Linked DNA regions of Homo sapiens. The protein of the gene in region 7 purifies or fractionates together with the protein of the main gene of each other region. This does not show direct contact. Each region holds a gene or a part of one and is shown on either strand. Other genes may lie near its edges. The genes, in order: RSL1D1, STAU1, EFTUD2, NCBP2, YBX1, PRPF8 and DDX21.

What was found.
Region 1: the proteins of DDX21 (region 7) and RSL1D1 purify together in Homo sapiens (affinity purification with mass spectrometry; 3 studies listed by BioGRID and IntAct, with this or other methods). This does not show direct contact.
Region 2: the proteins of DDX21 (region 7) and STAU1 purify together in Homo sapiens (affinity purification with mass spectrometry; 4 studies listed by BioGRID and IntAct, with this or other methods). This does not show direct contact.
Region 3: the proteins of DDX21 (region 7) and EFTUD2 purify together in Homo sapiens (affinity purification with mass spectrometry; 3 studies listed by BioGRID and IntAct, with this or other methods). This does not show direct contact.
Region 4: the proteins of DDX21 (region 7) and NCBP2 purify together in Homo sapiens (co-immunoprecipitation; 2 studies listed by BioGRID and IntAct, with this or other methods). This does not show direct contact.
Region 5: the proteins of DDX21 (region 7) and YBX1 purify together in Homo sapiens (co-immunoprecipitation; 4 studies listed by BioGRID and IntAct, with this or other methods). This does not show direct contact.
Region 6: the proteins of DDX21 (region 7) and PRPF8 purify together in Homo sapiens (affinity purification with mass spectrometry; 2 studies listed by BioGRID and IntAct, with this or other methods). This does not show direct contact.

The regions. Positions count from the first base shown.
Region 1 is NC_000016.10:11,844,831-11,849,057, reverse strand, and holds part of RSL1D1 (ribosomal L1 domain-containing protein 1), read left to right. Parts: intron 1-1,251; coding exon 1,252-1,390; intron 1,391-2,214; coding exon 2,215-2,363; intron 2,364-2,455; coding exon 2,456-2,557; intron 2,558-4,227. UniProt on the Homo sapiens protein: Regulates cellular senescence through inhibition of PTEN translation. Acts as a pro-apoptotic regulator in response to DNA damage.
Region 2 is NC_000020.11:49,121,983-49,126,209, forward strand, and holds part of STAU1 (double-stranded RNA-binding protein Staufen homolog 1), read right to left. Parts: intron 2,624-4,227; coding exon of another isoform or gene 2,606-2,623; coding exon 2,393-2,605; intron 1,254-2,392; coding exon 1,110-1,253; intron 1-1,109. UniProt on the Homo sapiens protein: Binds double-stranded RNA (regardless of the sequence) and tubulin.
Region 3 is NC_000017.11:44,892,726-44,896,952, reverse strand, and holds part of EFTUD2 (116 kDa U5 small nuclear ribonucleoprotein component), read left to right. Parts: intron 1-2,427; 5' UTR 2,428-2,431; coding exon 2,432-2,536; intron 2,537-4,227. UniProt on the Homo sapiens protein: Required for pre-mRNA splicing as component of the spliceosome, including pre-catalytic, catalytic and post-catalytic spliceosomal complexes. Component of the U5 snRNP and the U4/U6-U5 tri-snRNP complex, a building block of the spliceosome.
Region 4 is NC_000003.12:196,934,517-196,937,555, reverse strand, and holds the end of NCBP2 (nuclear cap-binding protein subunit 2), read left to right. Parts: coding exon 1-46; intron 47-473; coding exon 474-545; 3' UTR 546-2,150; downstream 2,151-3,039. UniProt on the Homo sapiens protein: Component of the cap-binding complex (CBC), which binds co-transcriptionally to the 5' cap of pre-mRNAs and is involved in various processes such as pre-mRNA splicing, translation regulation, nonsense-mediated mRNA decay, RNA-mediated gene silencing (RNAi) by microRNAs (miRNAs) and mRNA export.
Region 5 is NC_000001.11:42,688,266-42,692,492, reverse strand, and holds part of YBX1 (Y-box-binding protein 1), read right to left. Parts: intron 1-4,227. UniProt on the Homo sapiens protein: DNA- and RNA-binding protein involved in various processes, such as translational repression, RNA stabilization, mRNA splicing, DNA repair and transcription regulation.
Region 6 is NC_000017.11:1,657,064-1,661,290, forward strand, and holds part of PRPF8 (pre-mRNA-processing-splicing factor 8), read right to left. Parts: coding exon 4,208-4,227; intron 4,100-4,207; coding exon 3,930-4,099; intron 3,765-3,929; coding exon 3,635-3,764; intron 3,516-3,634; coding exon 3,369-3,515; intron 2,939-3,368; coding exon 2,778-2,938; intron 2,486-2,777; coding exon 2,294-2,485; intron 1,701-2,293; coding exon 1,463-1,700; intron 1,319-1,462; coding exon 1,190-1,318; intron 1-1,189. UniProt on the Homo sapiens protein: Plays a role in pre-mRNA splicing as core component of precatalytic, catalytic and postcatalytic spliceosomal complexes, both of the predominant U2-type spliceosome and the minor U12-type spliceosome.
Region 7 is NC_000010.11:68,969,670-68,973,169, forward strand, and holds part of DDX21 (nucleolar RNA helicase 2), read left to right. Parts: intron 1-531; coding exon 532-681; intron 682-2,221; coding exon 2,222-2,383; intron 2,384-3,500.

The DNA.
Region 1 (4,227 bases), on a different chromosome or scaffold from region 7:
CCTGTAATCTCAGCACTTTGGGAGGTGAGGTGGGTGGATCATTTGAGGCCTGGGAGTTTGAGATCATCCTGACCCAACATGGCGAAATCCCATGTCTCCTAAAAATACAAAAATTAGCCAGACATGATGGTGGGCGTCTGTAATCCCAGCTGTTTGGGAGGCTGAAGTGCAAGAATCATTTGAACCCAGGAGGCAGAGGTTGCAGAGACTCCAGCCTGGGCGACAGTGAGACTCCCATCTCAAAAAAAAAAAAAAAAGTTATGTTGGCTGAGTGTGGTGGCTCACACTGTAATCTCAGCAGTTTGGGAGGCTGAGGCAGGTGGATTGCTTGAGCCCACAAATTCAAGACCAGCCCAGGCTATGTGGCGAAACCCTGTCTCTACGAAAAATACAAAAATTAGCTGGGCCTACACCCAACTGGTACGTGCCTGGAGTCTCAGCTATGCTGGAGGCTATCGTGAGCTATGATCACACCACTGCACTGCAGCCTTGGGTACTGAGCAAAACCCTGTCTCAAAAAAAGGAAAAGAAGAAAGAGTTATTATGTTTATGGAGCTAAGAGTTTTAAAGAAGGTAAAATTCTGAACCAGGCTTGTCCTGATTAAGCTAGGTTTTTATAGCGCATTACAGTACGTGTGCACATACAGCAACATATGTATAATAATTATATATGCAAGCATTTGGAAGTCTTTAAGTATATTTTAATTCTTGTTGTATCCCAAGTGTTAATTGATATTTGGGCCTGTGTGTTTTTGTGATTTACTTGCCATTGAAAGTGAGTTTTGTTTTTTGTTTTTGTGTTTTGAGACGGAGTTTGCCTCTTGTTACCCAGGCTGGAGTCCAGTGGTGCGATCTTGGCTCACTGCAACCTCCACCTTCCGGGTTGAAGCGATTATCCTGCCTCAGACTCTCAAGTAGCTGGGATTACAGGCACCTACCACCGTGCCTGGCTAATTTTTTATAATTTTAGTAGAAACAGGGTTTCACCATGTTGGCCAGGCTGGTCTTGAACTCCTGACCTCAGGTGATCCATCTGCCTTGGCCTCCCTAAAGTGTGGGATTACAGGCTTGAGCCACTACTACCGGCCATGAAATGTATTTTTAAGTGTTGTTCTTGGTGCATTATTTGCTTAACTAGCATGACTAAAAGTTATTTAAATAACACTAAGTTTATCGCGTATTCTGTGTGATACAAACATGCATAATGTGTGTAATAATGCTTTCCTCGGTTTCTTTTCACGTATTTTGTAGGACCTTGCCTCATAGTATTCGATCAGATTCAGAAGATATCTGTTTATTTACGAAGGATGAACCCAATTCAACTCCTGAAAAGACAGAACAGTTTTATAGAAAGCTTTTAAACAAGCATGGAATTAAAACCGTTTCTCAGGTAGGAAGCCTGGTTAATATTTTCAAGTTATTTAGAGGATTTAATTCAGGCGAAATGGTATCACAAATACATTGCTATATTTCCTAGTATTTTTCTTCTACTTTTCTCTTTTTAATTTAATTTGTGGTGGCGTGTACATCAGTAGCTTTTATATCTTGCAAATTATAAAAGAGGTGGCTCGTGTCATTCCTCTGTACTTCCACAGCATCTTGTTTTTCTCTGATTTGCTGTTTTGTAGTTGGTGTACTTGTCTTTATTACCCTCTGGATCTAAGGTATCTAAGTTTTTTTGTTTGTTTGGAGTCTCGCTCTGTCGCCCAGGCTGGAATTCAATGGCAGGACCTCGGCTCACTGCAACCTCCACCTCCCAGGTTCAAGCTATTCTCCCACCTCAGCCTACCGAATAGCTGGGATTACAGGCACCTGCCATCATGCCCGGCTAATTTTTATATTTTTATAGAGACGAGGTTTCACCATGTTGGCCAGGCTGGTCTTGAATTCCTGAGCTCAGGTGATCCACCCACCTCGGCCTCCCAAAGGGCTAGTATTACAGGCGTAAGCACATACAGCAACATATGTATAATAATATATATATGTTGCCCACCTAGATCTAAGTTGCTTTAGCTGGGGTCTTTTCTCATTTGTCTCAGTGTTCCCAGCATGTAGCGTAGTGCCTGGCACATTTTAGGCCCTCAAGTGTTCATTAAAGTATAGAGGCATGGCTCTAGGACATTTTTAAATCCAAATCCAAATTGTTGCCTAAGTATTTCTTCTCCTTGTTTAGATTCCTAACTTCTTGTTTTTATTCTTCTCTATACTTCCTAGATTATCTCCCTCCAAACTCTAAAGAAGGAATATAAATCCTATGAAGCCAAGCTCCGCCTTCTGAGCAGTTTTGATTTCTTCCTTACTGATGCCAGAATTAGGCGGCTCTTACCCTCACTCATTGGGAGACATTTCTATCAAAGAAAGAAGTAAGTTTCTTAGTAATGACTGGACTTTAGCAGCATGAAGCTTCTAGGTGTGTATGCATTGTGTTCTGAATGCCTGTGTGTTTATTTTGTAGAGTTCCAGTATCTGTAAACCTTCTGTCCAAGAATTTATCAAGAGAGATCAATGACTGTATAGGTGGAACAGTCTTAAACATTTCTAAAAGTGGTTCTTGCAGGTAGGTAAAAGGCATTCATGTGTGCCTCTTTTAATCTTGTATTTGACAATGATTTTATATATACTTATTCGTTTTGTTTTGTTTTTTGTTTTTGTTTTTTTTTTTTGAGATGGAGTCTTACTCTGTCTGCCAGGCTGGAGTGCAGTGGCACCATCTCGACTCACTGCAAGCTCCGCCTCCTGGGTTCACGCCATTCTCCTGCCTCAGCCTCCCGAGTAGCTGGGACTACAGGCGCCTGCCACCACGCCCGGCTAATTTCTTTTTGTATTTTTAGTAGAGACAGGGTTTCACCGAGTTAGCCAGGATGATCTCGATCTCCTGACCTCATGATCCGCCCGCCTTGGCCTCCCAAAGTGCTGGGATTACAGGCGTGAGCCACTGCACCTGGCCTTTTTAAAAAGATTTTGTTAATGGCTCCAGATCCTTTTTTAAAACTAAAATCTATTCCTCAGAAGTGATCAATTCTCGGGTCAGGTGCAGTGGCTTATGCCTGTAATCCCAGCACTTTGGGAGGCCTAGGCAGGAGGATCGCTTGAGCCCAGGAGTGCAAGACCAGCTTGGGCAACATAATGAGACCCTCTCCCCCAGCCAATTACAGAAAAATCAAGAACATTAGTCAGGTGTGGTGGTGCATCCCTGTGCTCCCAGCTACACAGGAGGCTGTGGCAGGAGGATCACTTGAGCCTAGAAGGTCAAGACTGCAGTGAGCCATGTTCTTGTCACTGTTCTCCAGTCTGAATGACAGAGCAAGACTGTCTTTAAATGAAAAAAAAAAAAAGTTCAGTTCTCTAGAACAATGTTGTCTGATAGCACTTTCTACTGTGATGGAAATGGCCTGCATCTGTGCTGTCTCATACAGTAGGCACTATTTGTATGTAGCTATTGAGCACTTGAAATGTGGCTACTGTGTTAGAAGCTGAATTTTTAGTTAATTTAAAATAGGCACATGTGGCTAGTGGCTGATGGTCACTGCATTGGACGGGGCAGCTCCAGATACTAAGAAAAGCAAGGAGAGTAAGATGAATGCTTGGAGAACATGACTAGTTCTAGGCTTTGAGCTTGTCCTTTATCGTGCCACTGCACTCAGTGGTGCAGTCACAGTTCACTGCAACCTCCAACTCCTTGGCTCAAGCAATCCTTCCACCTCAGCCTCCTGAGTAGCTGGGACTACAGACACACATCACCATACCTGGCTAATTTTTCAATGTTTTGTAGCGGCGGGGTCTCACTATTTTGCCCCATCTAGACTTGAACCCCTAGACAAAACCGGTCCTCCTGTCCTGGCCTCCAAAAGTGTTGAGATTATAGGCGTGACCCACCACACCTGGCCTCAGATTGTCCTTTAAAAGCACCATATTACCCCTTAACGTGAAGATCCACCTCATTCTTGGTTTAACTTCCTATTAAATGAATTCAGCACTTATCCTGTTCATCTGCCTATTTGGTGTGTGTGTTGTCATATTGGTTTAACCTTACCCTGGATACTGAGCTAGGCGGAGCCCCCACACCTAGTCTTACCTACTAGAACAGATGTTTTAGGGCAGTGATTGCTTCCAACCTCTGGCTGAGCAAAGGATGCGGTTCAGGCTATTTTATTAGGCTGAGAAGTGACTTAAGTTTGTATTATTGGCAGTGTATCAGCTTGGGGAGGTAGGGCAGGTTTTAAATGT
Region 2 (4,227 bases), on a different chromosome or scaffold from region 7:
TCTTGGGCAAACTACTGATCCTCTCAGCAAACTGCAACTTCCTTTTGTGGAATGAAAGGATCATTCTTTTCCTACCTTCTGACTGCATAGGTAAAATATACGAGGTCAACTTTCTAAGTTATAAATTGCTATACAAGAGATAAGGATTCTGTCTTACATCAGAAAGCACTTAAATTCAAATCACAATTAAGTTAAGCTGCCTATGTGAAATGACCACTTAGCTTTGAACTTAATCAGCTAAGTACAAAGAAATGTTCCATACTAATCTGAAGTGTCACCCAATCTAAGGAAGAGGTAACCCTAGATTCCAGACTCCATAAGAATTAGGAGGAAGAGGAACAGATCTCTTGATACTACTTACAAAATTTACCTTTGGTAAAGAGCAATGTCATAAACCTTCAAGGAGATGTAATGAAGAAAAACTTCTCCCAGCACCCACCACCCCAGGACTCTTTCTTCCAAATTTCAGTGCAACACACCCACATTCCCACCAGTGCACCCAGCAGTAGTGCTGGTGTGCAGACATTACATTCATTTTTTTAAGCATTAAGATAAACAACTTAATCTTTGATATGTAGCCTTTACAGATTTCTGTGGTATGTTTAAGCTATCAAATTATTGCAAGCCACAAGGTCTTAATAAGGATCACAGTTGGCTGGGCGAGGTGGCTCACGCCTGTAATCCCAGCACTTTGGGAGGCTGAGGTGGGAGGATCACAAGGTCAGGAGATCAAAACCATCCTGGCCAACATGGCGAAACTCCGTCTCTGCTAAAAATACAAAAAATTAGCTGGGCATGGTGGCACGTGCCTGTAATCCCAGCTACTCGGGAGGCTGAGGCAGGAGAATCGCTTCAATCAGGGAGTCGGAGGTTGTAGTGAGCTGAGACAGCACCACTGCACTCCAGCCTGGGCGACAGAGTGAGACTCCATCTCAAAAATAAATAAATAAATAAATAAATAAATAAATAAATAAGGATCACAGTCGCTGGCAGAACATGGCCCACAGGATCCAGCCTCCTCAGGAAGGTGTCCAGACCTTGAACCGCCATCAGCCCCCAAGGCTGGACGTGGTCAGAGGAAGGGGCGCCCATCATCCATGCGGACCCACCTGCATCACAAACTCCCTGCGGCGCGGGAGGCCTCGCTCTGTGAGGAGCGTGTACTCTGGCTCCTTCTCCTTTTTTGCCTGCTGGATCTGGGCCAGTCGGCTAATCGGATTGATCCCCTGGCCATATTCTGGGCTTGTCTGTGGCTGAGGAACAAACAAGGCAGAAACTCTGTAATGTTATTCACCGCATGAACTTGGTCAACTCAGAGATCAGGATATGAGAGGAGATAAGAGATTTTGGGTTGACCTAATGGCTCAGAATTCGATTTTTTTTAATTTAACATTTTAACAATGAAAAGATGCTTTATTTTTTTTATGATTGTTCTAGGTGATTTTAAGGTCTTAGCAAACCAACATCAACATTTCACTATAACGAAGCGTCACTATGACTGCGACGGCTGTTTTTTAACATATTTCAACATATGACAGTAAATGGGCAGAAAAAACATAAAACACTATTCCTACAACTCCCCAAAAGTCTGAGCTATGATGGGTTCCCAATTTTCTTGAAAAGAACTCAAAATCCAGGAACCACTTTTTTAAAAAAGCTCAAGCTGATGCCACATGGCAAGAAGAACCTCAGAATCCCAGTTACTTCCTTGAGGCCACCTTTTGTGCCAAGGAACCCTCACTCTGCTGATCAGAAGTGACTTCCAGGCTATATTAAGCAAAAAAGGGAAACAAAAGGTATACATAGTATGCTTTTATGTAAGAAAAATTTGGATCTTGATACAGCATGAAACTACATATACTGAAAATCACAAAGTTCCCCATGGAATTATGTCCCCTTTCTGGGGTTGGGGAAGGGGTCAATATAATGCTTTGATAGATCCATTAGTGTGGCTCAAAAATCCAAAAGAAAAGGCACACAGCAAAATGTCTCACTCCTACCCTCCCACTATGGGCCTCCTGCCTGGCACAAATCTCCTCCACCTTCAGAACAGCAACATGGTCACTGAGACACAGGCACTGTTATTTCACCACGCGCCCCACAGACCGGCATGGCGTTCCTGCCCAATACCCCACTGTGATCGCCAGGGCTGTGATGAGCGCCCTCCTGCACAGATGTGTGTGCCCGTCTGCGGGTACCTCTACTGAACTGACACAATGTCCTTATCTTACCTAACAGGTGGCTCTTGCAGCACCTCTAAGGGGTCTGGCAGGCCTGGGGTGTGGCACGTTGGTCTCATCCCCTTTCACCTTGGGGACAGCGACCAGCCTTCTAAACCCCCCACCCATCTATAAGTAATGAAAACACCTTCTGTGTTCAGAAAAGTTCTCACCTTGACTATGGGTTTTGTTTTCTTTTTGATTCTAGGCTTTACTCGTTCAACTGCAGGCAGGGGCGGTAACTTCTTCAGCTCCTCAAGAACAGCTATGGCGGCATTTTTCTTTGAAATCTTCTTGCTTTTCCCTTCACCTTCCCCCACAAACTCCCCAACCGAAACCTTGGTCACAAAGTTCTTCATGTGGGGTGGGCCACTCTCCCGGGCCACCTGTTTCAGAGGGAAAGACTGAGTGAAAGCGGACAGACACTTATTAAAAGCTCCAAGGCACACTGGCTGGCACACTTCACACAGACACAGGGAAGGGGAACCAAGGACAAGACCTACTAAATGAAAGGAAGCGGGGATCATTTCAAATGCTTTCTCGCCTTTCTTCTTACTTCTCAAACTGGTTTATGCTCTTGAGTCTGGTGAGTCCCAAACAGTCAGGCATGAAATAGGGAGACCTTTTTACTCCCATGCCCCTGGCTCACAGGCTGTCCTGAGTTTAGTGTGGTCCACTGCAACTGGCAAAAAGGAAGCTAGCCCAGCAAAGTCCAGAAATAAATGCAGTACAAATGCTCAAGTTTAGTATCTGCTCTGAGCCTCCAGCCAGGACTAGGCCTACTAAATACTGGTTGCTATGTGGCCACAAAAGAGAACGAGACAAATCTCTTAAGCACTGATAAAGAGGGATTCCCCGCACACATTAAGTAAAAAAAAAAAAAAAAAAAACCCACAAAAGAGTATATGGTATGGTAGCTTTAGTTTAAGAAAAATAGGATTTTATACAAATATCTACACATATATAAACAGACACACATTTATAAGCTCATTTTTGCAAAAAAAAAAAAAAAAAAAAAAAAAACGAAGGATAAAAAAAATCAATGGGCTGGACATGGTGGCTCACACCTGTAATCCCAGCAATTTGGGAGACCAAAGCGGGTGGATCACTTGAGGTCAGGAGTTCAAGACCAGCCTGGCCAACATGGTGAAACCCCCATCTCTACTAAAAATACAAAAATTAGCTAGGGGTGGTGGTGCACACCTGTAATCCCAGCTACTTGGGAGGCTGAGGCACAAAAACCCCTTGAACCTGAGAGACGGAGGTTGCAGTGATCCAAGATCACAAAACTGCACTCCAGCCTAAGCGATAGAGTAAGACCCTGTCTCAAAGGAAAAAAAAAAAAAAAAAAAAGCAAGCAATGGGCCAGGCGCGGTGGCTCACGCCTGTAATCCCAGCACTTTGGGAGGCCGAGGCAGGTGGATCACGAGGTCAGGAGATCGAGACCATCCTGGCTAACATGGTGAAACCCCGTCTCTACTAAAAATACAAAAAAAATTAGCCGGGCGTGGTGGCAGGCGCCTGTAGTCCCAGCTACTCGGGAGGCTGAAGCAGGAGAATGGCGTGAACCTGGGAGGCGGAGCTTGCAGTGAGCTGAGATTGCGCCACTCCAGCCTGGGTGACAGAGTGGGACTCCGTCTCAAAAAGCAAGCAATGAAATTAGTTACCTACAACAGGTGTGAGGGATTAGGGTAGACAGACGGGATGAGACGGGAATGATAGTTTTGACTTCTGGAAGCATTTACTGTTTTACATATTAAAGAAATAAAACTAAGTCAACAAAGATGGGGAAAGAATCTAAAATTAAACATGAACAGAAAGTTAGCTGCATATTAAAGTGATTACAATCTCCAAATGGACCAAAGACCTACACAGAGGCGCTAACATGCACAACTCTCAGAAGCAAAAACAGGCGAGTCTTCATGACTTTGGGTTTGGCAATTGGTTTTTAAGATATGAAACTAAAAGCACAATCAACAAGAGGGAAAAAAAAAAGTCACACTTAATC
Region 3 (4,227 bases), on a different chromosome or scaffold from region 7:
GAGCCACTGCACCCAGCTGGACTCTGGTAAATTCTTTACACAGGGTGTTTTATTTAATCCTCATAACCATTTATTCAGTGAGGATTATTCATTCCATTTTCCAGTTGAAGAATAGGAATCAGGTTGGAAGAGATGAAGTAACTTACCTCAAGTTACATAGTTGTTGGTGACAAAGTTGGGATTTGAATCTAAGTCTTCCAACTCCAGAGCCCTGATGCTCTAGTCTGTTATTTATTGCTTATAAACTATAGTTGGTGATGGTAATTAGTAACTACTATTTGTTTATTTATTTTGTTTATTTTTTTCGAGACGGAGTCTCACTCTGTCAGCCAGGCTGAAGTGCAGTGGTGCGATCTCAGCTCACTGCAACCTCTGCCTCCTGGATTCAAGTGATTCTCCTGCCTCAGCCTGCTGAGTAGCTGGGACTACAGGTGTGTGCCACCACACCTGGCTAATTTTTTGTATTTTTAGTAGAGACGGGGTTTCACTGTGTTAGCCAGGATGGTCTCTATCTCCTGACCTCATGATCCGCCCATCTTGGCCTGCCAAAGTGCTGGGATTACAGGCATGAGCCACTGTGCCCAGCCAGTTAACTACTATTTAAGACAAAATTAAATACTGATAAAGGTGCAAAAAGCTCTAGTAGGATAGAGGAATGAGAAATTGAGGAGCTAGGAAAGCTTGAAGGAGGTGGTGGCATTTGAACTGTTTCTTTGAATAGAATTTCAGTAATTGAAGTGGAGAAAACCCACAAAACACTACTTAATTACAAAGGGAAAATGAGTAACTTTACAATGGAGAGGCCTGGCAAACATCACCTTAATGAAGTGATCAAAGTTAACGTTACCACTAATGGGGCAAATTGAAATCATGTATCACCTGATACGAAATGCATTGAGAAGAACACAGCATCACTTCTATGATATTCCTGCCCAAAACGCATAACCTGAATATTATCATAAGGTAACATCAGACAACCTCAAATCAAGGGACATCCTTAAGGATTTCATGACAGTCCTTGGAAGGAAAGACTGAAGATTGTAGATCCAAAGACTGAAGATTGTAGATCCAAAGAGACTAGAGACATGACAACCAAATGCAAACATGATCCTGGATTGGATCCTTAGGTGTGTAAGGTATTATTGGAACAATCTGTGAAACTTGAATGGGATCTGTAAAGAAGGTGGTAGTAATGTGTGAATATCAATTTTCTGATTTTGATGGTTGTATTGTGGTTATGTAGGAGAATGTTCTTGTTTGTAGGAATTACACATGGTGAGGGAGAGGTTGGCAAACTTTTTCTATTAAGGACTGGATAATATTTTAGGCTTTGTGAGCCATATGGTTTCAGTCTCAACTATTCAACTCTGCTATTACAGTGTGAAGGCAACTGTAAATGATGCAAATGAATATGCATGGCTGTTTTCCAGTGAAACTTTTTTTTTTTTTTTTTTTTTGAGATGGAGTCTTGTTCTGTCTCCCAGGCTGGAGTGCAGTGGTGCCATCTCGCCTCACTGCAACCTCCACCCCCTGGGTTCAAGGGATTCTCCTATATCAGCCTCCTGAGTAGCTGGGATTACAGGTGTGAGCCACCGTACCCAGCTAATTTTTGTATTTTTAGTAGAGACAGCGTTTTGCCATGTTGGCCAGGCTGGTCTCGAACTCCTGACCTCAGGTCATCTGCCTGCCTTGGCCTCCCAAAGTGCTGGTATTACAGGCATGCGCCACCGCGCCCGGCCTCCCAATGAAACTTTTTTAATAGACACTGACATTTGAATTCCTTATAATTAATTTTCATGTATCATGAAATATTTTTCTTTTGACTTTTTCCCTGGCAATTTACAAATGTGAAAAAGCATTCTTAGCTTGAGGGCCATGTAAAAACAGCTGGAGGGGCCAGATTTGGCCACAGGCCAGAGTTTGCCCACCCTTACACTAAAGTATTAGGAGGTGATGAGCCATTGTGTCAACAGCTCACTTTCAAATAATTTAGGAAAAAGTAAGTTATTTGTACTGTTCTTGCCATTTTTTGATACTGAGTTGTTTTAAAATTAAATTTAGTATTAAAAAAGTGGAGGGAGGGGGACCTCCTCTTTTGGCTTTGGAGCGCCCCCCACGCCCCATCTCTGTACGGCGGAGCTTCTTCCTTCTGTCTTCTTTCTTCCTTCTTGCCTATTCAACTCTCTGCTCCTTAAAACCCAAAACAAGAAAAGTGGAGGGAAGACTACATAAATAGAGACAAGTAAGGCAGAGACTTGGGGAAAGTACTGGGCTTTGGGAGGAGCATTCAGTAGGTTGATGTCACTGGAGAGGAGGCATGTGAAAGGGGTATGGCCAACCATAAGACTAAGACTAGACAGGTGGAGCCACCACATGAAGGCCTTGATTACCTTGTCAGAATCTAACTCTTCTCTCCTTGAATTTTAGCATCATGGATACCGACTTATATGATGAGTTTGGGAATTATATTGGACCAGAGCTTGATTCTGATGAAGATGATGATGAATTGGGTAGAGAGACCAAAGATCTTGATGAGGTAAAACAAATATATTGCTCTTTTATCTCACTCTTATTTATTTTATTTAAGACAAGATCTCACTCTCTTGCCAGGTTGGAGTGCAGTGGCGCAATCTCAGCTCACTGCAACCTCCACCTCCTGGGCTTAAGTGATCCTCCCACCTTGGCCTCCCAAGTAGCTGGGACTACAGGTATGCACCACCATGCCCAGCTAATTTTTTTTTATTTTTCGTGGAGATGAAACATTGCCCAGGCTGGTCTTGAACTCCTGAGCTCGAGCAGTCCACCTGCCTTGGCCTCCCAAACTGCTAGGATTACAGGCATGAGCCACCATGCCCAGCCCCCTCTTTTTTCTTTTTTTTTTTTTTGAGACAGTCTCACCCTGTTGCCCAGGCAGGAGCGCAGTGGCACCATCTTGGCTCACTGCAGCCTCTGCCTCCCAGGTCCAAGCAATTCTCAATGCCTCAGCCTCCTGAGTAGCTGGGATTACAGGTGTGTGCCACCATGCCCGGCTAATGTTTTTTGTATTTTTAGTAGAGACAGGGTTTCACTATGTTGTCCAGGCTGGTCTTGAAGTCCTGACTTCAAGCAATCCACCTGCCTTGGCCTCCCAAAGAGCTGGGATTATAGGCATGAGCCACCATGCCTGCCCCCCCACCCCCCCCCCCACCTTTTTTTAAAAAACAATGAAATTTTGAATCCTCTGTGTTCCAGTGATACCCTGGGTACGTCTCTTGAGATTGTCCTTTTTATAACATGACTTAGTGGGATCTCATACTGCTCCAGCAAAGCTTCGCTACTAAGGTTCCAAAAGGGAATATGTAGTTTCATTGATGAGATGGTTTTGTAATCTGAGCTCTAGTTGATCATTAGTTCTTCCATTTCCCTGAAGTGTCTTTTAACAGTCATGAATAATTCCCACTTGGAAAAGATACTCAACTCTTCCAGCTACAGCTGCACTGGGAGCTCCCTCACAAGCTCAGATTTTCAGAGATGCATAAAAGCAATAGAAAGGGCCCGGGCGTGGTGGCTCATGCCTGTAATCCCAGCACCTTGGGAGGCCAAGGTGGTCAGATCACACGGTCAGGAGTTCAAGACTAACCTGACCAATACGGTGAAACCCCGTCTCTACTAAAAATACAAATATTAGCCAGGCTTGTTGGCGCGTGCCTGTAGTCCCAGCTGCTTGGAAGGCCGAGGCAGGAAAATCACTTGAACACGGGAGGCGGAGGTTGCAGTGAGCCAAGATTGTGCCACTGTACTCCAGCCTGGGCAACAAGAGTGAGACTCGGTCTCAAACAAAAAAAAAAAAAAATGACTGTTGAGTACTTAGGAAGCTAGCATGAGTTTTATAAAAATAATTTTCTCTTGATAGGATTACTAGGTTGAGCCACAGGTCAGGGGCATGCTGTGGACATGATGTATCTTGATTTGGGCAAGACATTTGAAGTTTTTTATTGATGTCTTATAAACCAGCATTTTTTTTTCTTTTTGAAAATAAGGTTTACAGTCAGGTGTGGTGGCTTACGCCTGTAATTCCAGCATTTTGGGAGGCTGAGGCGCTTGAGCCCAGGAGTTTGAGACCAGCCTGGCCAACATGGTGAAACCCCGTCTCTACTAAAATACAAAAATTAGCTGGGTGTGGTGGTACATGCCTGTAATCCCAGCTACTCAGGAGGCTGAGGCAGGAGAATTGCTTGAACCCGGGAG
Region 4 (3,039 bases), on a different chromosome or scaffold from region 7:
CTTTAAGGAGGGCAGGCAATACGGCCGTGGGCGATCTGGGGGCCAGGTATGCAAGAAGGGTCTCTGGGCTCAGCCATTGCCTGGGATTCCAGTCACAATGACAGGTGTTTTGGCAATTTGTATTTACTCTTTTGTAAATAACTTTGTGTCTATAACCTTGGCTTGAAGTGGATCTGAAAACCACCCAACGGTTTGGGTGAATTTTTTTTTTAAACCGTGAAATGGTATGTTCTGTACGTTTCTAACAAGCAACCATTCTTGAACTTCTGCTAGGGCTAGGTATCTTCCACCTGCAGGAACATCTAAAATGAAAGCAAAACGCACTGAAGTGAGCTGAAGTGCATATGTCCTGCTTGAAATGTTCACATTGTGGCATCTGAACAGGTTTCACTGTTTGTCTAACATGTTTGTGGGAGGCATATTTGTTACACCATTCTTTTCCATACTGTAACTCTGGATTCTTTCCATTAAAGGTTCGGGATGAGTATCGGCAGGACTACGATGCTGGGAGAGGAGGCTATGGAAAACTGGCACAGAACCAGTGAGTGGTGAGAGCTCTGTCAGTGACAAACACTCCTTTGGCCTGTTGAATTTGCTGAAGAACATCACCTAAAGTCTGCACACGAGCCCATTTTTACCAAGATTTGATCAGTGTCTTTACTGAGCTGGAAGCCTCTGAAAGTTATTAAAGGACAGAATCCAAAAGAATGCCTTTAATTCTTGTCTGAGAATCTTGGCCATGTGTCAGATTATCAGAACAATTTTGTTACCAGGTCAGAAATTGTGTTCTTTGACAACAGATTGGATCTGTAATGTTGATTAGTCTTTAGCCATAACCACTACACTTTTAGAAAGACAGAAAAATGTAAGAATTTGTTTTTACCATAATGAGTCTTAAGTAGGTTCATGATCTACATTGGGGCCTGGGATTATTTTTTTAATTTTAAGTTTGCATGAGATAGCCTAATAAATGGAGGTGGGGCCAGGCATGGTGGCTCACACGTGTAATCCCAACACTTTGGGAGGCTGAGGAGGAAGGATAGCTTGAGGCCAGGAGTTTGAGACTAGACTGGGCAACATAGCAAGACCCCGTCTCTACAAAGCACAACGAAAAACAACAAATGGAGTTGTGCTATGTTGTATTGCTTTGCACAAAATTAGGAACAGGTGTTTGACAATTGAATTTGTTTTCTGTGAATTCTAACCTCTAAAGGCATGCTTAGAGGTCAAGGACCTTCCTGTGTAGTTGGTGCAAAAGCAATCTCCACAGGACAGCACTGCTTCCATGCTTCATACATCAGGAAATGAGGCCAGAACTTGAGTATTTACTAACACGTTTTTCAAAAGATGTCAGTGTTATACCTAAAGCTAAAAAAAAGCAAGGGTTTGTCATAGAGGGAACCTCTAAATAATTTCAGGGGTAGGGGAGATGTTGTCAATAGGAAATGGGATAAAATATCAAGAGACAATGAAAACACTGCCTTGACATGAGGACCAGCAAGTTTATTCTTTTCATTTTCAGTGATGTTGGGAATGGACTGGGTTTTAAAAGGGAGCTTGAAGAGGGAATGTTTGACAGTCACAGAAGGTTCCTGCAGCAGATGCCTCTTTTAGCCATTTCTCATTTTTTTCCTCAAATTTTACCTACTGAGGCTCAAGCCTTCACAGTGAGCTGATGGTCTCTACAGGGAGGGGAGTCTAGGGAATTTATTTGGTATTTGTAAGGCAAGAGGTGATTTCTCTCTAATATATCTGAGTTATTGCTCATTTAAAACTGTTAAGTCCAGTATAATTTTCCCTGATATGAAAAAATGTGCATTTTTTTCACTTAGCAACAAAGTACCTTCTAATTTCCAATAGTCCGTGAAAGTTGGGGCTGAAGTACCTAAGTGTGAATGTCTCTCCCGTTAAACTGAGTGTAGAAATCTGAATTTTTAAAAGAGCTGTAACTAGTTGTAAGTGCTTAGGAAGAAACTTTGCAAACATTTAATGAGGATACACTGTTCATTTTTAAAATTCCTTCACACTGTAATTTAATGTGTTTTATATTCTTTTGTAGTAAAACAACATAACTCAGATTTCTACAGGAGACAGTGGTTTTATTCGGATTGTCTTCTGTAATAGGTTTCAATAAAGCTGGATGAACTTATCGTTGTTGCTGCCTGTTTCCTGGCCTATAAAGAGGGTTGTGTTCTGGAATTCCTGTACTCTGGATACACATGAATGAGTTCCAGGGGGATTCTATGAATAGTGTGGACAATTCGCGTGTCCATTTTGATTGACTGACAGTTGGAAATAACTATTGCTGCGTGTGAAGAGAGCGCACAGATTTTCTTGTGAAAGTGATCAAATAGGCACCAAGCAACCTCTACTGATGGAAGAATAGGTTAGTTTTCCAAAAAACATGCTCTGGATGATTGCAAGGGAAGGGAAATTGTGGGTGGATTAAGAACATCTTATGTTTCCTGGGCTAGAGAACACTAAATGTGAGTCTCTTTACTGCACCATTCTTTCCTATTTCTCATGGATAGCATCTGACCTGTTTCTCACTTTAATCGGAGAAAAGTGAAAATTCAAACGTACAGATGAAGGCATCACTATTAATACATGTTAGTGAAGTGTGAGAATTAAACATTCAGTTTCTCAGTCAAGCTAAGATGAAGATATAGAACATTTCCGTTGTAGAAAATTCGAGTGATGGTGCTGCTGCTCTGAGGGTGAGCTGGTTAGGGCCTGCACTGCTCACTGTTCTGAAATGACCTCTGTCGTGACTGGAATGTCACAAGAAAAAAATTACTCCTCGCCAAACAGTACATGTTACTCAAGACGAGAGAACACAAGTTTATAAAGGCATTTAGTTTATTTTTCAAAAAAATACTTTGCTAGAAGGGTTGAGTACTGTAATTTTACATGATCATAATCTCTAAATAAATTCTTTTTCTGACCAACAGGTACCAGTTAAGTGAACAGCTCGTCTAGGTCTGCTTTTGTAACACCCAAATACAATTAGCACTTCTCTGCTGGTATTCCCTGGGCCGT
Region 5 (4,227 bases), on a different chromosome or scaffold from region 7:
ATAAGAACATTTTTAATTGATGGGAACAGGATAATTAAAAAAACAGAACAGGTAAACTGTAAAAGCGACTTAAGGCAAGTGACTGAAAACTGACCTTTCAAGCTAGATGATTAGGATTGCCTAGGGAAATGATGGCTGTACCTAATGTCCATCTGTCCATAACTCCATAGGCACCACAAAAACAGATTACAGCCATCATTTATTAGTTCTGCTCTCCAATATGACTGAATTTCAAACTCTAAGGCTCTAAGGGGAAATACAATAAAAAACTGGTAGAGTAAGAAAGGCAAATACAGGCAAAGTCTAGAATAGTGATTTTCAACAGGGGCAATACTTCCCCTGGCAGGGTATTTAAAGTTTTTCCAGTCCGGGTGCAGTGGCTCACGCCTGCAATCCCAGCACTTTGGGAGGCCAAGAGTTCAAGATCAGCCTGGCCAACATCGTGAAACCTCGTCTCTACTAAAATTACAAAAAATTAGCCAGGCGTGGCTGTGTGTGCCTATAGTCCCAGCTACTCTGGGGGGTGAGGCAGGAGAATTGCTTGAAGCTAGGAGGCGGAGGTTACAGTGAGCTGCTGCACTCCAGCCTGGGCAACAGAGTGAGATTCCATCTCAAAAAAAATAAAAAAATAAAATTTTTTTCCAAAGATAGGGAGCACTATCTGCATTAATGGAAGTGGTGGGTGTTAGTTGCTAGAAGACTATGTAAAGATTTGGTATAGAAAGTAAATTTGTTTATTGTTATCTGAGTCATGTATGTATTTCTGTACTGTTTTAATACGCATTAAATTCACTAAAAATGCAGCTTCTGTGGAGAATTTTTCATTACTGATAATGCTACTCATGGTATCTGGGTAATACATCATTTCTTTATCAATCCATTTTGTGGTGGCTCTGACTGTTTGTTATGCCTTCTAATGTAGTTACAACAGGTATTCACATATCAATATCATCATACCCGGCAATAAAAATAATTAAAAGTAGTTACGTGGCGAGACCCTATATCTATAAAAAATAAAAAATTAGCCGGGCCTCCATTCAAGTCCCGGAAATGAGGGTGCAGTGAGCTATAATCATGCCACTGTACTCCATCCTGCGCAACAGAGCAAGACCCTGTCTCTGCACAGAGAAAGCACAAGGCTGCCATTACACACAGGGTAATGTCACTCCTGCAAAGACAGGGAGGTGTTTTGTGGGTACATAGATAGATATGTGAAACTAACACAGTTCACTGACCAGTGTCATGACAGTAAAAACAGTATTGCAAAAGGAATACTTAGCCAGGGCCTCAAGCTCAAGGTATTTACTGAAAACGTCCTCAATTGCAATAAAAACATTATACCATTAAAAAGAGTGATTTGTTGAACCAGTGATTTAAATGTATTGATCTGCTTTGAATTTGCAACCAGCCAGAATCTCTAGTTTAAACTGGCAGTTATAACAAAAGAGACCCTCAAATATTAGACAGCTGCAGTGCAGCTTTCTGGGTGCAGGTGTCACTCTCTGCCAGCCATCACTATTCTTTTCTGTTCAGTTTTTCTCTCAGGTGTTTGCTGGGAAATTAACACTGGAACTGACCCTTTTCCGGCAGTGAATGTAAGCTCTAGCTCCCCCATCTACTAGAAAGAAATGTCTTCAAGATGTAGAAATAAGGAATATTCTGAAAATAAAAATTATACAGTAGTAAAGATAATTCAGAAAGAAAAAGCTACCTGTTAGAATTTCCAGTCTAAATGGCACAGGGTAGTTAGGGAGAAAAGGGGTTGGAGAAAGAGAAACTATGACTAAAGATGAGAGGTATGAACAAGCTGTCAAGTTCCTATGGGCTAAAGCTGGGGCAATCAGGCCCTGAACTCCAAAGCTGGATAAAGTCTTTCTTTCTATTCTTCTTGGCCACCTGCACAGTCTGACACATACATATGTACAATTAGATTTGCAGGTCACAGGAGTGCCCTGCATTGTTTTAACTAGAAATAAAAAGTATTAGTCTAAATGTGGTTCTGGTGCCCTGTATATATGTAACAATATAGGACCCCCAAAATAGATTTTGCTTCTGGTGAATCTTATTCATTGGGTTAGTGTATGACTGTCTATAATATTTTCCATTTGTATTATTACATTGGGAAAAACATTTTTATCACTTTCTATTGTTAAGAAAATGGAAAACTTAAATATGGTGTTAAAAATGGAAATATATGTGATATTTGCATTATTAAACCCCTTTGCAGATCTTAAAAAAAAAAAAAGAAAAGAAAAAGAAATAACAGTACTCAATTTTTTTTTGAGATGGAGTCTCACTTTGTTGCCTAGGCTGGAGTGCAGTAGCGATCTTGGCTCACTGCAACCTCTGCCTTCGGGGTTCAAGTTCTTGCACTTCAGCCATGAGTAGCTGGGATTACAGGTATGCACCACCACGCCCTGCTAGATTTTTAGTCTTGACTCAACTATTAACAGCTGTGTAACCTAGGAAAGCTGCCTCATTGGCTTTTTTACCTGCAAAATGAGAAAAACTACACTAAACACTTAATAACTTACATTACTAAGGTAGGTACTCAAATCTTTTTAGTATTTATTGGGCATTTACTATTCACTAATACTAGCCAGATTTCTAAATTAAAATCTAATTGCTACCACTCCTATACTATGGCCTATCCAGATTGGTAAGGGTCTTAAAAATAGACAAAATGCAACTCAAAATGGGAAAACAAAGGCAAAAAAATTTAACTTCCCTGGAAAACTTTTTAGTAAGTCAAAAGACAATTACAGCTTGCCAGATAATTCTCCATGCCACAGGAACTAGGAATTCTAGCATTTGCTTTTCATGGCCCAATCCATCCAAACTCCCGGACTCTACTCCAGCATGTTCACCATGTTTGACCCCCCTCCCACTCCTTTTAAAACATAACTATCTTTATCCTAGCTGTATATCTACATAAAAAATAAGCTAAATTTTAGAAAACTTTTTTGCCAATCCACAGTATTGCCTTAAATAAGACTTATTATACATAAATTTATCCGTAACTAAATGCTCTTATACTACTACTTTGTTGCAGATCACCAGACCACACTAGTCTAACACCTTAATTCACGTAACTGCATACACTAATTTACAATCCTGTGGTTATAAAAACTCCAGGATTTACCATCTATATGCTCCATAACCTAAAGCAACCAGATACCAATTTCCAAGCCTTGTAGATGACTGTAAGATAATAATGTCCACTTATCTTTGTATTTCTTCTCTATTAAACACCCTTCACACCCAACAGACTCACTTCTGTTTCCCACATATTGTCTATGATTCTGCCTTCGGACAAACTGTATGTTTCCAAGGGCTAAGACTGGAGGGTAGCAAACTCAGCAACTGCAGCCCCAGGACTAGGGGGACAGGAAGGTAATACAGTGTATCCTTGAATAACTCAGTATCTATGAGGGTGGATAGAAGTTTGAGGTGCCAACCTGCTGCACAGTTGAAATCTGCCTGTAACTTTTGACTCTTCCAAAATTTAATGGCTTACTCGTGACTGGAAAGCCTTACTGGTAACATAAATCCTTAACACATTTTCTGTCTTATATGTATTATATACTGTATTCTTGCAATAAAGCTACAGAAAAGAAAATGCTAAGAAAGTTGTAAGAGAAAATACATGTACAGTACTGCACTTATCGATACGGTAAGTGTACATCTGTCTGAAAGGTAATTCCAGCTGTAGACCTCATCTATAGCACATATCGAGCAACTGAACTTTTTCTTACAATGCCATGACTTTTCTCAGCATCACTAGCGCCACTTTGCATGGGTCCCATGGTGCTATTGAAGACTTACAGTATTGCACTAAACCACAATACCTGTGTACTACAAGTTCTTTTTACTGACATGCAATTTACTGGAGAGATAAACTGTTCATGTGAAGATGATTAGCGTCACATGGCATTTTAAGGGGCTCACTGCAGTAGCAATAGGCAGTGGCTACATATTATAATAGTACAATATTACTACAGTGAATGTCGTGCAGTTATGATTTAATGCTGCCTGAATCTTTATGTTTGTTTACATTTCTCAACTGCAAATGGCTGTATTAACTTTCTAATGCATTTGTGTACATTTTATGGTAGTAAATAATAAAACAGACTAGTATCTACAACATACTCAACTTTTCCTTATTTTGGGGGATACTTCTTGGCTATGTGGTTCATCTGAAGTTTTCAGGTTGTTGCAAATCTCCAA
Region 6 (4,227 bases), on a different chromosome or scaffold from region 7:
AAAACGTGTCTTAAGGAGGGACTGTGATTAACAGAGCAAAGAGGGGAGTTCATTCTAGAAAGAAAAATACAAGCAAAACACAGATTTGGAGATGAGCATCAGGGGTTTGGGCTACTAAGATCCTGGACTGAATGTAAGATGAAACATGCTATAAATGTAAAGGAAGAGAAACTGGCTGGACAGATACAGCCCAGCCAGATGTTGAACGTCTAGGAAGCTAAAGAAGAGTTAATTCAGCAAGAGTTGTGAGGTAGAGAAGAGATTTGGTCAAAGTGGATGTTTCAAGAATATGCGTTGCTGGGCCGGGCACGGTGGCTCAAGCCTGTAATCCCAGCACTTTGAGAGGCCAAGGCGGGCGGATCACGAGGTCAGGAGATTGAGACCATCCTGGCCAACATGGTGAAACCCCGTCTCTACTAAAAATACAAAAAATTTAGCCGGGCGTGGTGGCGGGCACCTGTAGTCCCAGCTACTCGGGAGGCTGAGGCAGGAGAATGGCGTGAACCTGGGAGGCGGAGCTTGCAGTGAGCTGAAATCAGGCCACTGCATTCCAGCCTGGGCAACAGAGCAAGACTCCGTCTCAAAAAAAAAAAAAAAAAAAGAGAATATGCATTGCTGGCCAGGAGCAGTGGCTCACACCTGTAATCCGAGCACTTTGGGAGGCAGAGGCAGAGGCAGGCAGATCACAAAGTCAGGAGATCGAGACCATCCTGGCTAACACGTTGAAACCCTGTCTCTACTAAAAAATACAAAAAAAATTAGCCAGGCGTGGTGGCGGGCGCCTGTAGTCCCAGCTACTCGGGAGGCTAAGGCAGGAGAATGGCGTGAACCCGGGAGGCGGAGCTTGCAGTGAACCGAGATTGAGCCACTGTGCTCCAGCCTGGGCCACACAGCGAGACTCCGGCTAAAAAAAAAAAAAAAAAAAAAGAGTATGCGTTGCCTTTGGAAAAATGATTTTTGATAGCCCTGTTCAAGGTTAGAAATTCAGGAAACAGACCAGCTGGAAGGGAACGAAGCACCTCATACACTCTTGGACCTCCCACAGAATACTTCCCAAGGTATTTTGGGGATAAGTTCAAATGAGATGTTCTCAGCCTTTCATCTAATAAACCAGTAAATATTACCAAGTCCACCCCAAGAATAAGAGGCAACATGGTTCTACAGCCTCTTCATCTTTAAACCTGCTCACCTGCCCCAAACGCTTCTGTCCCGCCCACACGGACGTGTGGATTATCTTGAGGAACAGCTGCCCTGTGCGTGGGTTGAAGATGAAGATGGCTCCGTTGATGGGCTTGGTTGTCAAGTTCCCTTCAAAGGTCTAGAGGAGGACGGCATTCGTTAGCATGGCCTACACAACACATCCCCATCCTGCCTTCTTCCCAGCATGTGTACACACTTAGCCCATTACTCTCCCACAGCCATGTACAGAGTCCCGCACCTATACACTGCTGCTAACACTCACCTTGTGAATAGTCACTCTGTAGACGTTGGTGTCATCCACAAACCAGATAATCTGGTTGGAGAAGAGCTCACCATAGTTCTGAGAAGACAAATAAGGCTCAGTGGGTTCAGATGAATAGAGCTGTAGCCCCTTGCGGATCCGTTCACGTAACACATACAGGGCAGGGTTTGCCTTCATGATCTTGGCCATGGCCTGTTGTATGAGAGGCTTGCTGCCTGGGAACCAGTTTCCATAGGCACTGTGAGGATAAAAGGGTCAAGAAAAGTTAAGACGAGAATGACAGCCCCAGAAACAAGACAAGCTGCCAACTCTACAGAGGAAGAAAGACTGTTCGCCAGGCTGACAACACTCTGCTCATGTGTACATACAGGCTGGAGAAGAGAATCAGTGACCCATAGGAGGAATGGGCCACTTCCTCTCACTTAGGTAAAGTAAAAAAGTATGACTACGTTAAAGTATGGAGCTAATGGAAAATACACGGATTATTTATTTATTTATTATTATTATTATTTTTCTTTGAGATGGAGTCTCACTCTGTCGCCCAGGCTGGAGTGCAGTGGCGCAATCTCGGTTCACTGCAAGCTCCGCCTCCCGGGTTCAAGTAATTCTCCCACCTCAACCTTCTGAGTAGCTGGGACTACAGGCGTGGACCACCACGCCCAGCTAATTTTTTGTATTTTGGTAGAGACAGGGTTTCACCATGTTGCCCAGACTGGTCTCAAACTCCTGAGCTCAGACAATCTGCCCACCGCGGCCTCCCAAAGTGCTGGGATTACAGGTGTGAGCCACTGCGCCTGGCCTGAAAATACATGGTCCTGAGCCTCAACTCACCTGTGCAAGTTATAGGCCAGGTCAATGGCGATGAGTACACCTGTGGGCGAAGGGTAGATACTCATGTTGTCGGTGGTGTAGTCCAGGAACTTGGCCCGGGCGTAGCGCTCAATGTCGTGGGAATCATAGTCCCCCCAGCGCAACTGGATGTCAATCCAGTATTTCTGGGTGGTGGTGCTGTCCATCACATCCCTGAGGATGAAGAGGGTTCAAGCTTCTAAGAAACCATGGGCATAACCAATGTCCCCAGAACCAGAACCACTTAAATCCCAAAACCATCCCACCCACTCCACCAACTTGTTCCAGGTCAGCAGGACCCCAGAGAATCAGCAGATCTGACTAAGGGTGTTGACAGGCTCCAAGCGTAGCACTGGCTCCAAGTTTGAAACAAAGGCAGACAGGACAATTCCTAAAGTTGCAGGGCTAGAAGAACAGGAAAACGAAAGTGTCCTGGCTGCCTAGGGCTGGGTCCTGAGGCACTTACTTGGAGTCAGCCAGCAATGAGGGCCGGGAGACATTCCACTTATAGGAGGCAAAGAGCAGGATATCTGCACAGGAAGAGTTCATCTTATATGACTTTCGGGGATGGATTGTCTCCTTTTGTACTGTCTCAATTTCCAGTGCATCAAGTTCCTGGTCAAACACCTGAAGGAAAACATGGAGAGATTAAGACTTGTTAAGGAAGCCCAATTAAAATCAGAGTTTGTACAATAAGATAATGAGGCAATAGGAGTCTCATCCTCAGAGCTTCCAGGGTGGATTTCCCATATGCAAAAGAGCAAGCTGAGCTGACTCTGTACAGCACGCTCTCCCCGCGATTCCACCTGAGCTGACTCTGTACAGCACCCTCTCCCCGCGATTCCACCTAAGCTGACTCTGTACAGCACCCTCTCCCTGCGATTCCACCTGAGCTGACTCTCTACAGTACCCTCTCCCCACGATTCCACCTGAGCTGACTCTGTACAGTACCCTCTCCCCTCGATTCCACCTGAGCTGACTCTGTACAGTACCCTCTCCCCTCAATTCCACCTGAGCTGACTCTCTACAGTACCCTCTCCCCTCGATTCCAGCCCACCTGACATAAGTCCATAACAATGCTCTCATGGATCTTCTGCCACAAGTGAGCTCGGAAGATCTGGATGAGAGAGATCTTCAGCGTGGGGATCTTGCCGTGCATGAAGATACCCGTCAGGTCTAGCTGCACCTGAAAGCCTACATATACCTGCCAGGAAAACGACAATGTGACATTAGAGATCAAGAGACTCGGGCGCTCACGACATAACCAAGGCAAGAAGCAGCAACTGTCTTTAGCTTCCCCTCTCCAGTGTCAATCACACTCACATTGGCTCGATTAATGGTCGGGGACCACCAGAGGGTGAATCTACGATTGGGAATCTGGTTCAGTCCTGATCGCTGAGCATTAGTTAGCTTCTTCCACTTCATAGATTCCTCAAAGCCACTGGCCTTCTCCCTGGGGAGCAAGAGAAGCAGGTGAGGTGATATCCTGCCATTTCCCAGCACACTGCTAACCTCCTGGAGGTGGCTGTCTGGGAAACACCACAGGAAATCACAGAGGCATACAAGAGATGAGCTCAAAGGGTTGTGACAGGTCCCTCTAAGAGAGGAGAATCCTCACCAGAAAAGCCCCTCCCAGGTAGGGAAGTAAGTGCCCTTAAAGAGTGTGTGTTCCAGAATGCCTTCCACACCGCCCAGGGCCTGGATCATGTCTGTACGGTAGTTGTTCAGGTTCCAGAGCTTCCCATCATGCCGCTGGTGTGTCCACCAGAACGGATTCTGCTTCAAAACCTAGATGGCAAGGCAGGCACGGTCAAGCTTCTGGGTGCCTATTGCCCCAAGTTTCGGGGATAGCCATGGATTTTCCTGACTCAGGGAAAATCTGCTCCCTCTACATACCTGATACTGCTTAAAGTCAG
Region 7 (3,500 bases):
AATCACACTTAAAATTTAAACATTAGAGGGCAGCAGAGAAATCTAGTGCTTTGTGTTTAAGCTTAAAAGTGTTGAAGTTTAAAATTTCACCTTTGATTCTGATAATCTAGATGAATTAATTTCACTGAGGAACAGACCTGTATATTAATCTACTACAGATTGGGTTTTTAAGTAAATGAAAAGGCAAAACATACAGAAATTTGTTGGTTATTTGGTTTCCTGTAGAAAGCTAGGGAGTGGCATTTCCTTTCCTGCATTTTCCTGGTTGTCAGAAAATAAAGAAGTTAGATGCTCTTTAGAGAAAGGGGAGAGGCATGGGGAGATGGGCAGATCATGTTGCTTTCTGCTTTACTGGCTTATTTAGGTTTTTTTCTGTCAGTGGTGGCTGCAGACAGCTCTTATCAGGCTTGAGTAGTTGTTTCCAGGAGCAAGACATTAGAACATTAGTGTTGTGCTCACTGATCATTGTGTTGTGATTTTAGTTTCCAGCAAAGCTTTACTAAATAGATGTTTTTTTTCTTCTTACATAAGCATCTGGCTATTAAGTGCCACTGGACTCAGAGGGCAGCAGTTATTGGGGATGTCATCCGAGTATATAGTGGTCATCAAGGACGCACTATCATCTTTTGTGAAACCAAGAAAGAAGCCCAGGAGCTGTCCCAGAATTCAGCTATAAAGCAGGTTGGTCCTTCCCCTTATGCCAGCAAAACTGGGGATATCAACAAATCTTCACCTTGGGCATATCTGCTCTTGGTCTGATTTTCATTCATTCAGTGAATACCAGTTTAGTTTAGTTTAGAAATGAGAGGAAGCTACTTTTTTTTTTTTTTTTTTAATTGAGGCAGAGTCTCATTCTGTTACCCAGGCTGGAGTGCAGTGGTGTGATCTGGGCTCTCTGCCTCCTGAGTTCAAGTGATTCTCCCACCTCAGTCTCCCGAGTAGCTGGGATTACAAGTGAGCACCACCATTCCTGGTTAATTTTGTTTTTTCTTTATTTTTTTGAGAGGGGGTCTCGCTTCTTCGCCCAGGCTGGACTGCAATGGTGTGATCTTGGCTCACTGAAACCTCCGCTTCTTGGGTTCAAGCAGTTCTCCTGCCTCAGCCTCCCAAGTAGCTGCGATTACAGGCACGTGCCAGCATGCCCAGCTAATTTTTGTATTTTTAGTAGAGATGGGGTTTCACCGTGTTGGCCGGGTTGGTCTCGAACTCCTGACCTCAAGTGATCCACCTGCCTCGGCCACTCAGAATGCTGGGATTATAGGCATGAGCCACTGCGCCCAGCCTAATTTTTTTTTTTTTTTTTTTTTTTTTTTTGGAGACAGGGTCTCACTCCCTTTGCCCAGGCTGAAGTGAAGTGCATTGGCGTGGTCTCGGATCACTGTAGCCTCAACCTCCAGGTAGCATGCACCACCATACCTGGCTTTTTTTTTCTGGATGGTGTTTTATTATTGATATAATTCATGTGCCACATATTATCATTTTAAAGTGTACAGTTCAGTGGCTTTTAGCATAATCATGAGGTTGTGCCACAGTCACCACTATCTAATTGGGAAGACTTTTTTTATCTTCAACTTTTAGGTTCAGGGGTACATGTGAGGATGTACAGGTTTGTTACATAGCTAAATGTATGCCAAGGTGGTTTGCTGCACAGATCATCCCATAACCTAGGTATTAAGCCCAGCATTTATTAGCAGGATTAGCTATTCTCCTACCCACCCCCAACTAATTTTATTTTTTTAAATTTTTTTTCTATTTTTAGTAGAGACCGAGTCTTGCCATATTGCCCAGGCTGGTCTCAAACCCCAGCCTCAAGCAGTCTGCCTGTCTGGGCCTCCCAAAGTGCATGAGCTACTGCACCTGGCCTCACTTCTTTCTAATGATCAGAGGGTACATGTTAGAACTCACTTAATCTGTCATGGCATCTCATCACACAAATGAGGAAAGGGTGGCTCAGACCTAAGGTTACACTGATAAAATAGGTTTGATCACTCTTGTCTCATTCTCAACTTCAATAAGTAAAGTTGGATACAGTTGGAATTGATAACTGAGGATTTGGAAATAATATTGAGGCTTATCCATTCAAGACACATTTTCCCCTTTGTAATGTTTTCAACAGGCATGTCACCAAAATATGAATGTCTTTTACAGGCCTAACTGATGAAGAGAAAAAGTACTTGTATTGTTGGAACTGGTGTTCTTACATCCGTTTATTTATTGGCAGGATGCTCAGTCCTTGCATGGAGACATTCCACAGAAGCAAAGGGAAATCACCCTGAAAGGTTTTAGAAATGGTAGTTTTGGAGTTTTGGTGGCAACCAATGTTGCTGCACGTGGGTTAGACATCCCTGAGGTTGATTTGGTTATACAAAGCTCTCCACCAAAGGTATGTGCTTTATGCTTAGATTTTATTTTGTTTTGTTTTTTTTGGGTATTAAAACAAATTGGAAATTGTATTATTTACTTTCATGTCATTAGTATATAGCTATCTTTTGAGTGCTGGGATGCTAAGGGTGATTTTGAGAATGAACCTGTTATCAGACACCCCCCTCAGAACTGACACTTGAGTAGAAGTGCAGTCAGCAGACAGAGGTTCAAAAGGTGACTTGGGGATATAGTGTGATTTTTGAGCCAAACCTTGAAGATGGGTGGAAGGACTGAGATGGGATAGGGGTAAGTAAGGTAGATAAATGCATGAGCCTAGAGGACAGGGGAGAGAAAGGGCCTGTAATTAACCTCTGTGGTTAGAGATGCTTAGGTTTGTGAGTTATAGGAACCTCTCAAGGAGGACCCTGAATCATAGTTTACTTGATGTGGATAGTTCTTCACGTAAATAAAGGTTGTTCCAAAGGTATTCCAATCACTTCCAACATGAGGACCCCAAAATCTCACCCAAATTGGCAAATCCCCCATGGTTAAAGGCTGCTTACAACAATGGGGAAAAATAACTGAAGACTATGAATTCACCAATTCTTAAAAAGGAAGTCCCATGAGTGTGTGGTATAAACATTGTTTCACGAGCCTTTAGACTTTTTGATATGGTAGCCACTAGCTGTGTTGAGCACTTGAAATGTAGGTGGTCTGAATTGATCTGTGTACTGCAAGTGTAAAATACATACTGCCTAACTTTTTATTATGCGGTCTGGATTTTGAAGACTTACGAAAAAATACAAAATATTGCATTGGTACCCTGGTTTGTATAGATAGTATATTGAAATGATAAGACTTGGATATTCTGACAGGCGTGGTGGCTCATGTCTGTAATCCCAGCACCTTGGGCGGCTGAGGCAAACGAATCACTTAAGGTCAGGAGTTCGAGACCAGCCTGGCCAATATGGTGAAACTCTGTGAAACCCTGTCTATACTAAAAATACAAAAATTAGCCAGGCCTGGTGTCAGGTGCCTGTTGTCCCAGCTACTTGGGAGGCTGAGACAGCAAGATCACTTGAACCCGGTAGGCGGAGGTTGCAGTGAGCTGAGATCATGCCACTGCACTCCAGCCT